Homo sapiens: one gene and its partners. The protein of the gene in region 3 purifies or fractionates together with the protein of the main gene of each other region. This does not show direct contact. Each region holds a gene or a part of one and is shown on either strand. Other genes may lie near its edges. The genes, in order: AP3B2, AP3S2 and AP3M2.

Evidence for each region.
Region 1: the proteins of AP3M2 (region 3) and AP3B2 fractionate together in Homo sapiens (co-fractionation; one large-scale study listed by BioGRID). This does not show direct contact.
Region 2: the proteins of AP3M2 (region 3) and AP3S2 purify together in Homo sapiens (affinity purification with mass spectrometry; 2 studies listed by BioGRID and IntAct, with this or other methods). This does not show direct contact.

The regions. Positions count from the first base shown.
Region 1 is NC_000015.10:82,699,848-82,703,501, forward strand, and holds part of AP3B2 (AP-3 complex subunit beta-2), read right to left. Parts: intron 1-3,654.
Region 2 is NC_000015.10:89,838,394-89,842,047, forward strand, and holds part of AP3S2 (AP-3 complex subunit sigma-2), read right to left. Parts: intron 952-3,654; exon of another isoform or gene 1-951. UniProt on the Homo sapiens protein: Part of the AP-3 complex, an adaptor-related complex which is not clathrin-associated. The complex is associated with the Golgi region as well as more peripheral structures.
Region 3 is NC_000008.11:42,159,503-42,163,156, reverse strand, and holds part of AP3M2 (AP-3 complex subunit mu-2), read right to left. Parts: intron 877-3,654; coding exon 739-876; intron 1-738. UniProt on the Homo sapiens protein: Part of the AP-3 complex, an adaptor-related complex which is not clathrin-associated. The complex is associated with the Golgi region as well as more peripheral structures.

The DNA of each region.
Region 1 (3,654 bases), on a different chromosome or scaffold from region 3:
CCCCCGGGAGCTGCAGGAATCGCTGCATCAGGTTCTTCTCCAGGAATGGACTGAGCTGGCCAGGGCGCTGGGGCTCCTGTCACAGTCACCAGATGGCCCGCCCCCAAAACTTGGTAACCGGACACTGGCAGGGAGGGATGCTCCGGTTTCCTCTTCACTGCTCAGAGACAAGGCCTCTAGAGGGAAAGAAGGGCAGGGACAGGAGACCAAGCCTACCCCTAGTCTCTGGGCAAGGGACTAGATGGTCAGTGGAGTTGATAGAGAGGTGAGAGATGCCCTCTTCAGCTCCAATCCCACTGCCACAATTAGACTGCAGCCTCCTGAGAAATCTCATATACCCTCTTCTCACTGACCCTAGGCATCTTAATCCTCACCTGCCTTTCCAGAGCCAATACTTGATTTATTCCTTCCCATCAACCTTCTCTTATCTCTACTTCCTCCTAGCACCCTCCCCCGCAACCCCTGTGTCTATCCCTCCAACTGCTCTCACATCCTTGGCCCTCTTGTCCCACTGGTCTCCAATGCCACTGGCCTGCCAGTGGTGGGTGGCTTTTTTTTTTTTTTTTTTCAGATGGAGTTTCACTCTTATTGCCCAGGCTGGAGTGTAATGGCGTGATCTCGGCTCACTGCAACCTCCGTCTCCTGGGTTCAAGCAATTCTCCTGCCTCAGCCTCCCAAGTAGCTGGGATTACAGGCATACACCACCACACCTGGCTAATTTTTGTATTTTTAGTAGAGACGGGGTTTCTCCATGTTGGTCAGGCTGGTCTCAAACTCCCAACCTTAGGTGATATGCCTGCCTCAGCCTCCCAAAGTGCTAGGATTACAGGCGTGAGCCACCGCGCCTGGCCTGGTTGGCTTTCTTCATTGTATTTGAAACCCCTTTGACCCTCAAGTCCCCATTCCCAGCCTTGCCCTTATGGCTTCACCACCTGGTTCCCGAAAAAGGGAAAGTCTTTAGATGAAATCCCCTGCAGCCCCCTGCCCCAGACTCCCATCCATCTGCATTTATTTACTTATTTATTTATTTAGAGATGGAGTCTCACTCCGTTGCCCAGGCTGGAGTGCAGTGGTGCCATCTCGGCTCACTGTAATCTCCACCTCCCGGGTTCATGTGATTCTCCTGCCTCAGCCTCCTGAGTAGCTGGGATTATAGACATGCGTTACCACAACTGGCTAATTTTTGTATTTTTAGTAGAGACGGGGTTTTGACATGTTGGCCAGGTTAGTCTTGAACTCTTGATTTCAAGTGACCTGCCCGCCTCAGCCTCCCAAAGTGCTGGGATTACAGGCATGAGCCACTGTACCCAGTCTCCATCTGCATTTATACTCTCCTCTCCTCCTGCCCTCTTCCCTCTGGGCAGAGTTGGTCCTCCCTGCTCCCAGGCTAGTCCTCCCACCCAGCTCAGTAAGCCTCCCCTCCCATCACTCAGTGTTCTGTACTTCCTTTCTTCCCTTCAGCCTCTCTCCCACCAATCGCTCCTTCCCATCAGCAGTTAAACTTGCTCTAGGCTCTCCCGCCTAATATTAATAATAAACAAAAATATGGAGTCATACATTTTAAGAAACAAAAAAAAAAACCCAAAATAACAAAATAGACAAACTTCCTTGAACTGAGTGAGGTTCTCCTCCAGCAGCTTTCTCTTTTACAGTCAAATTTCTTGAAAGCAAAATTTCCATTCACTGTTTTATCTACTTACCACCTGTGTGCTCCTTTATTCATTTTAATCTGGCTTTAGATGTCGACTTAGAATGTGGGGTTGAAGGGTCATGATCTCTGCAACTTAACATGGTTCAACCAAAAAAAGTATACGAATAGATGGTTAGATAAAGCAAATAAGGTACGATGTCAATGACAGTTGAATCTAGATGGATGATATACATGTGTTCATTGTATTATTCATTTCATTTTTCTGTATGTTTTAAATCATCCACAACAGAATGCTGGGAAAGAAATAATCTAGCTCCTGTTCTCCTTACTTTGCCAGAATTTATCTCCCAGGGCAGGAGGTGGGGAATAGAGTAGAAAGGAATTGAGCTCTTCTTTGTCAACCAATGGTCATGATTTTTTTCCTTGTTTGATTTGACCTTAATGGGCATTGAAACTACTGACCACTCCCTCCTTCTTGAAATTACATTGTTTTCTTTCAGCCTTTAGTTCACCTCTTGGGTACCTTGAAACACTTTCCACTGTTCTCTGGTCACTTCTAATGTTGGTGTCTTCAGGGTTCAGACTTGTGCAGTGTCTGAACTCATTTTATACCTCCTCCCTGAGTTATCTTCACTTCTGTGGCTTTAATTAACATACATATGTTAATAATTCCCTAATCTCTCTCCTGGAACCCAAATCGTAATATCCAGCTACCTAATAGGGTAATATGTCCCTCAGAGTTTACAATCTCAATATGTCCAAAGCTGGGCTCAACATTAATTTTCCACAAATTTGCTTGTAACATCTTTATTTCCAATTACACTGAATAACACCATCATCCATCCAGTTGCAGGAACTAGTAACCTGAGTAACATCCTTGTCAGGCCTCTGAGCCCAAGCTAAACCATCATATCCCCTGTGACCTGCACGTATATATCCAGATGGCCTGAAGTAATTGAAGAATCACAAAAGAAGTGAAAATGGCCTGTTCCTGCCTTAACTGATGACATTACCTTGTGAAATTCCTTCTCCTGGCTCATCCTGGCTCAAAAGCTCCCCCACTGAGCACCTTGTGTCCCCCGCCCCTGCCCACCAAGGAACACCCCCCTTTGACTGTAATTGTCCACTACCTACCCAAATCCTATAAAATGGCCCCACCCCTATCTCCTTTCGTTGACTCTTTTTTCAGACTCAGCCGGCCTGCAACCAGGTGATTAAAAAGCTTTATTGCTCACACAAAGCCTGTTGGGTGGTCTCTTCACATGGACGTGCGTGAAATTTGGTGCCATGACTCGGATCGGGGGACCACCCTTGGAAGATCAATCCCCTGTCCTCCTGCTCTTTGCTTCATGATAAAGATCCACCTAATGACCTCGGGTCCTCAGACCAACCAGCCTGAGGAACATCTCACCAATTTTAAATCAGGTAAGCGGCCTCTTTTTACTCTCTTCTCCAACCTCTCTCACTATCCCTCAACCTCTTTCTCCTTTCAATCTTGGTGCCATCTTTCAATCTCTCCCTTCTCTTAATTTCGGTTCCTTTCCTTTTCTGGTAGAGACAGGAAATGCATTTTATCTGTGAACCCAAAACTCCGGCGCCGATCACGGACTCAGGAAGACAGTCTTCCCTTGGTGTTTAATCACTGCGGGGACGCCTGCTTGATTATTCACCCACGTTTCAGAGTTGTCTGATCACCGCGAGGATGCCTGCCTTGATCTTTCACCCTTAGTGGCAAACACCACTTTTTGGGGGGCAAGTACCCCCCACCCCTTCTCTCCATGTTTCTACCCTCTCTTTTCTCTCCACGTTCCTGGGGGACAAGCACCCCCGACTCCTTCTCTCTGTGTCTCTACCCTCTCTTTTCTCTCCACTTTCCTGGGGGGCAAAGCACCCCCCACCCCTTCTCTCCGTGTCTCTACCCTCTCTTTTCTCTGGGCTTGCCTCCTTCACTGTGGGCAACATTCCACCCTCCATTCCTCCTTCTTCTCTCTTAGCCTGTGTTC
Region 2 (3,654 bases), on a different chromosome or scaffold from region 3:
ATAAGGGTCACATTTGGGCTTAGGTTCCATCTAGCTAGCAGTCATCTAAACAAAGCTGAATCTCAGTGTACCTAACTGCTGTGATGGGACGGAGGTGACTCAACTACTGTACCCCTTTGTGGTAGGAAAGCTGTCACAGAAAGCCCTGGGTGGGTCAAAGCAGAGATGCCCACTGTGGTTCATAAGGAATGGTACTCCATATTTCAAACCAAATCACATCAAATGGCCCTCAAGGTGCTTTCGGTCAAGTTGGGAAGACAGCAAGTACAACCTTCTATTGTTAACTAAGTGCCAAATGACTGGGATAGTCCTGGGGAAGTCAGAGAAGAAAGGGTACAGTGGCTAGAGAGATCAGAGAGCTTCACAGAGACAGTGGGAGGATGGAAGCTGGGCTCTGACATTAGAGAGGTAGGGGAAAGAATTTCAGGTAGAAGATGTTGGAAGGAGCAATTCAGCTGGTGTATGGGCAGGTATGGGGAGCTCCTGGGTCTGGCTGGGATGGCAACTTTCTTTATGCAGGAGAGAGGCTAAGACAAGGCTGAGAAGGTAATTTGGGTCTGGAGCAGGGCTTCTCAGCCTAGGTACTAGTGACATCTGGGACCAGATAATCCTCTGCTGTGGGGCTGTCCTGTCACTGTGGCCTGTTCTCTAGCATCCCTGGTCTCTACTCCTCCAGCTTGACAATCAAAAATGTCTCCAGAATTGTCATATGTGTTCCAGGGGGCAAATTCACCCCAGCTGAGAACCACTGGTCCAGAGTCTAGAGTCAACCACCAGTTTACTCTGTCAGCAATGCAGAGTCAAGAAGAAAGATGTGTCTGCATATCTGGGCACTGTGCACTTCTGACATCTGAAGTTCTCTGGCATTGGCTCCCTGTATTTTGCCCTCAGTAAGTGCAGGGAACTTCTGATCTTGAGGACAGAGTATAATAAATCAAATGTATTCCCTTGCGTGTGTGCCCACATTGAGCTTTATTAACCACTGTTCTGTCTACACACACGCACACACACACTCTCACGAGGTGTTCTTACATTTTATACAATATGAATTATTCATTAGCTATATGCAAATGAAGATTTAATGGTAAAAGTCTCATATTTAGATAATTTACAAAATGTTAAACAAGACTGGTTTTAAAATTATTCCCTGGGGGAATTCCACTGTTTATACTTCCCCATCAAGAAATAGGCCTCTGAAAACAGTATGGTGGTTCCTCAAAAAGATTAAAAACAGAATTACCATATGGCCCAGCAATTCCACTTTTGGATATACACTCAAAAGAACTGAAAGTAAAGACTTGAAGAGAATGTGTACACCCATGTTCATAGCAGTATTATTCACAACAGCCAAAAGGTGGAAGCAGCCCAAGTGTCCATGAACAGACGACTGGATCAACAAAATGTGCCATAGAAATACAACAGAATATTATTCAGCCTTAAAAAGGAAAAGAATTCTTTTTTTTTTTTTCATCTGAATTGAGATGCTGTAAAAGGGAAGGGAATTCTGAGACACAATGTAACACGGATGAACCTTGAAGATACTATAAGTGAAACAACCCACACACAAAAGGATGAGGACTGTGTGATTCCACTCCTGTGAGGTACCCAGAGTAGTCAAATTCAGAGACAGAAACTGGAACGGGGGCTGCCATGAGGCAGGGGGAAGAGGACAGTGGTGGCTATTGTTTAATGTGTACAGAGGTGCTGTTTTGCAAGATGAAGAGCTCTGGAGACGGATGGTGGTGGCGACTGCACAACAATGTGGATATACTTAATGCCACAGAACTGTAAGCTTAAAAATGGTGAAGACAGGAAACTATATGTTACATATTTTACCACAATTTAACAAAAAAGGAGAGAAATAGTCCTCTATACCTGCACTTTCAGTATTTATTCCTTTTATTTAGCCAATCCCTGTGTGGGTAGAAAGTAGTACTTGTTGAGTATCTATTATGAACCAAGTACTTTATGTAACTTACCTTAATTTTACAACATTCATCTAAGGTAGGTAATATAATCTTCACTTTATTATTATTATTACTATTATTATTTGAGGCTGAGTCTCACTCTGTCACCCAGGCTGGAGTACAGTGGTGTGAACTTGGCTCACTGCAACCTCCGCCTCCTGGGTTCAAGCGATTCTCCCAACTCAGCCTCCTGAGTAGCTGGGATTACAGGCACCCGCCACCATGCCCAGCTAATTTTTATATTTTTAGTAGAGTCGGGGTTTCCTCATGTTGGCCAGGCTGGTCTGGAACTCCTGACCTCAGATGATCCCCCTGCCTTGGCCTCCCAAAGTGCTGAGATTACAGGCGTGAGCCACCACGCCTGGCCTGACTTCACTTTATATATGAAGAAATTGATACATTTTATATATGAGGAAAAGGCAATAAAATGATCCCAATGTCATGTATATTAGCAGCAGAATGGTGCTGATTCCGGAGCTCATGTTCTACCCTTTATATCATACTTCCTCAGAATCCCAAACTATGTCTTCCACTCTATTCATCCCTGACCCCTAGTCCACATGAAATCATTTAAGACTTGTCTTTGGTGTGTCAATATCTTGTATTAATTCTTCCATGCTTTATCTCCAAGGCCTAGAACAACGCTCAGAGTAGGCATGCTAAATGAATGAAAGGCTTTCCATATATCTAAGTAGCATATTCCTTGGGCTTTAGGGACTTCGAAGATAGACAACAGTGTGGTGGTGGGGGCTTTCTGGAGAAGGTATAGTAAAAGGCCTAACACATGATGTCGTGGAGACTAGTGGCTGGTTAACAGAAAAAGTCAGTTAAAACTTCTTATTTAACACTGCATCATAAAGTCAGCATTTTCAAATGCTGTTCAAAATATGTTCCAAATGCAAAAAGAAGAAATAAAAATGCAAACTCCATTTTTGTTATAACTACAGGATATCCAAAATTCCAAACCCCCAAACAGGTGAAAAAGCTGTCAAAAGCAGGGAGCTCAGGCAGGGACTCCTTTGCTTCACAGAAGAAAAAGAAGAAAGGATGCTACAGGGAGAGGACAGGGAAGCTGGTGATCTCAGAAAGATCTGCAAAAATATGTACTTCCTGTGGGTAAAGGACACACTCCAGCACCAAATTAATTCCTTGTTTTTGGAAGGCAGGAACTTCCTTGGACCTGAAGTTGAGGCTAAATGAGAAATCACGCAAGCTACATTTGCCTCACAGAGGTGGTGTCTGTGGTAGTAGAGAAGACATCCTTTGCATTGTGGAGATGCTAAGAGACGCCTTGCCTATCTCGATTGGCTGGCTAGAGACTAAGGGTAAACGGACTCACCCAGAACCCTAAATCAAGGGAACAACTGTAGCTAGCCCAGAACAGAGTTTTGGTAGCTCCTCCAACAAACATCCTGCAAAACAGCTGGTCCCTGAAAAACTTGCCTATTTAAAGATAAGTATACAAAAAATCTAAACAGGATCTATATAAATATACAACGAGAAAAAATTAGGAAAGAAATAGGAAAACCAAATGGCAGACTAAGACCACAGACTGGAAAAGGGCCTCCATGGACTAGATACAATGGTAATAAAATATTTTACACAAAGAAAAAAAGAAAACTTGATAAAATAGTTGTCTCTATGAAATGAGAGCTCAAAGCAGAAATACAAGAACTTTAGCAGAGGT
Region 3 (3,654 bases):
TACCATCATGACTGGCTTCTACAAATTCTGAAGCTCCAGGACTTCTAGTCATATTTACCTAATTCAGAACACATAGAAAAGGCAGCTCCCTGAATTTTGTGATTACAACTTTAGTTCTGCCATCAGAACTGGGAGCCAAATACTTTCGAGAAGGTAATTTAATCAATAAGAAATTAATTTGTTACTTTTTTTTTTTTTTTTTTTTTTTTTTTTGAGACAGGGTCTTGCTGTTGCCCAGGCTGGAGTGCAGTGTCATGATCAGGGCTTACTGCAACCTCAACTTCCCAAGCTCAAGCAATCCTCCTACCTCAGCCCCTCACAAAGTTAGGAATACAGGCATGCACAACTATGCTCAGGTAATTTTTTTCACTTTTTGTGGAGATGGGGTCTCACTATGTTGCTCAGGCTGGTCTTAAACTCCTGGGCTCAAGCAATCCTCCCGCCTCAGCTTTCCAAAGTGCTGGGATTACAGGCGTGAGTCACTACATCTGGCCTGTTACTTCTCTTTTTTATTCAAGAGGATAAGACCAATAAAGCAAGTAAACATATGAAATAAACCCTGGTCTGCATCATAATATTAACGTCCATTCCCAGTACCCAGCACAGTGCCTGGCACAAAGTAGGCACTAAATTGAAGTGGATGACCTTGAATGGGGGTTAATTCTGAAACTACAAGCATTATATGAAAGAGGTCCCTTTCTATTTTCATATTTCTGAGAACATATTAAAAGCACCTACCTGATTTATCAATAATTGCATCAATCTCTTCAATCACATCAAAATAGGCCTCATTGTTGGTATATTTCACCCCAGTCCGTCGCCAAGGCACCACTGACAGCTGCCCAGTGGGAAGCTGGTCACCCACATTCGTGCTTCCTGAGGCAATTAATATTACTGTATTTTAACACCATTTTGACTCTAGAAACCACAGAACACCTCCCTAGAAGTTTCTATGCTCCCACTATTCATGCACTCAATTGAAGAATTTTTCAAACAGAAGATGAGGTTTTTCCCAACTTCTATATGGGGTAACCTAGTCTATTTTTAAAACCCCTTGTTGCCATCTGGTCTGCCTTTTCAAACAGAATAAAGGTTTAAGAAAAAGTTACCTGAGAAACAGATATCATATTTTGGTTTTGAAAGTAACCTGAACTTAGTATCTCAGATGCAGCTTAAATAATGTATTGGCTTTCAGTAGAGTTCGTAATCTACATATTGATATAAAAATTTCATGGGTAAAAACAGTATTTGAGCCTGAGATAGGTTCTTAGGTACATTTATGGTAGGTACTAAAATGTACATATCAATATGATCTGTCTCATTCCCAAGTTCCAACACTGAAACTTAGGAAAAGAACACAAAGTTGATCTCTCCCTGTCTTTAAGAATTGTAGATCAATTCCTTCACTTGTTTTTTCCTTTACAGGCATAAACTTTTTTTAATTTAAAAGGTTTTATACTGACATAATAAAATACATTAATTTAAATTCTATTTCCTTCTTCCATTACCTGGATCCTTTTATTTTCTGTCTTTAAACAAAATTTTTTTTAGATAGAGTCTCGCTCTATCGCCCAGGCTGGAGTACAGTGGTGCAGTCTTGGCTTACTGCAACCTCTGCCTTCCGGGTTCAAACAATTCTCCTGCCTCAGCCTCCCGAGTAGCTGGGACTACAGGCGCGTGCCACCACATCCGGCTAATTTTTGTATTTTTAGTAGAGACGGGGTTTCACTATGTTGGCCAGGCTGGTCTTGAACTCCTGACCTAATGATCCACCCAACTCGGCCTCCCAAAGTGCTGGGATTACAGATGTGAGCCACCATGCCCACCTAAAAAATTTTTTTAAGAGATAGGGTTTTCCTATGTTGCCCATGCTGGAGTTCAGTGGCTATTCACAGGCACAATCATAACTCACTGCAGCCTCGACCTCCTGGGCTCAAGTGATCCTCCCACCTTAGCCTTCAGAGTAGCTGGGACCACAGGCATGCACCACCATGCTTGGCTAATTTTTGTATTTTTTGTAAAGACAGGGTTTCATCAAGTTGCCCAGGCTGATTTCGAACTCCTGTGCATGAGTGATCCTCCCGCCTCAGCCTCCTAAAGTATTGGATACAGGCATGAGCCAATATGTCAGGCCCATTTCAACTTTTCAAAAGTGGTTCTTAGATACCCTTTTCTAGATTAAAGTGAGATACAGGCTTAACTCACTTCATAATATTCGTAAATGATTCAGGCACTAACAAAGCTTTTAAGGCTTAAAATGAACTCAGAATATTGAAGAAACCACCAAATTTGTTTCCTTAAAAAGAGGAACTATGTATTAAAATGTATCATCAAGATATAATAATCAAAGCAGTCTAGGGAAAAGGCAGGAAAGCCTAAAAACAGACCAAGAATCCATAATGACAGGACAAGATAGAAATGTCATTCTAAAACAGGGGAAAAGGATAAATTACACAATGGTGCTAGGAAAACTCTTGAAGAAATAAACATTATTGCACACCAAGATAATTTTCAAATGGATTAAATAATTAAATCCAAAAATAAAATCACAAACTAGACTTTTAAAAAAGATCTTCCCTTCTCTGAGATCAAAAAGACATTCTCCTGTTTTTGTCTAATAATTATAAAGTCTGTGTTTAACTCCTTAACCTAGCTAGACTTTATTTTGTGTATAGTGTGAAGTGGAGGGACTTAATTTTTTCCATATTGAAGCTGACTGCCCTAATACAATATAGTTAACAACCAGCCCCTGGTCCACTGATTTGATAAATGACCACATCTATCTACACCAAATTCCTATAAAAGCAAGGGTCTGTTTCTGGACTATTTTATCCCAATGACCTATCTGTCTGTTACAGACAAATACCAAATTTTAAAAACTACCCAAACTTCATACAGATTGAGTAATCTTTACCTGAAATGTTCAGGACCAGAAATGTTTCAAATTTTGTATTTTTTTAAATTTTGGAATATCTGGATTATACCAGTTGCGCATCCCAAATTCAAAAATCTGAAATCCTCCAATGAGCATTTCCTTTGAGTGTCATGTCAGTATCCAAAAAGTTTTGGATTGTAGAGCATTCTGGATTTTGGATTTGGGATGTTAAACCTGTAATATATCTGATATCTGGTAGGACACATTTTATCTTTCCTCTTTTTAAAAATATTATTTTCAAAACTCTCTTGGGTCTTGTAGGATGTCTACTGTATGAATATTTGTCTTGTGTACTATACAAACTTAACGTGTCGTGATATTTGACAGGGCAAATCCTCCCAACAACCCCTTTGTAATTCTTTTCCAAAACTGTCCTGGCTATTCTTGCAATATTTATACTTTTAAAATGTATTTTTCAATCAGTTTATAAAATTCCATGAAAATGCTTGCTTATGCATTAAACAAGACCCAAAATGTAAAACCTTAATGAAAAGAATGATTAATTTGATTAAATCAAAACATTTAAAATGTGGCTAAACACCACCAGAACAAAGCTAAATCACAAGTGATAGACTGTAAGAAAATATCTGTAATGCAGTAATCAAAAGACATAAAGATCTCCCATAAAAGAGATTTTAAATCCACATGAAAAAAGAAATACATTTCAACAACAAAAAAATGAACAAAGGACATGAAAAGGTAATTCACAATAGAGGAAA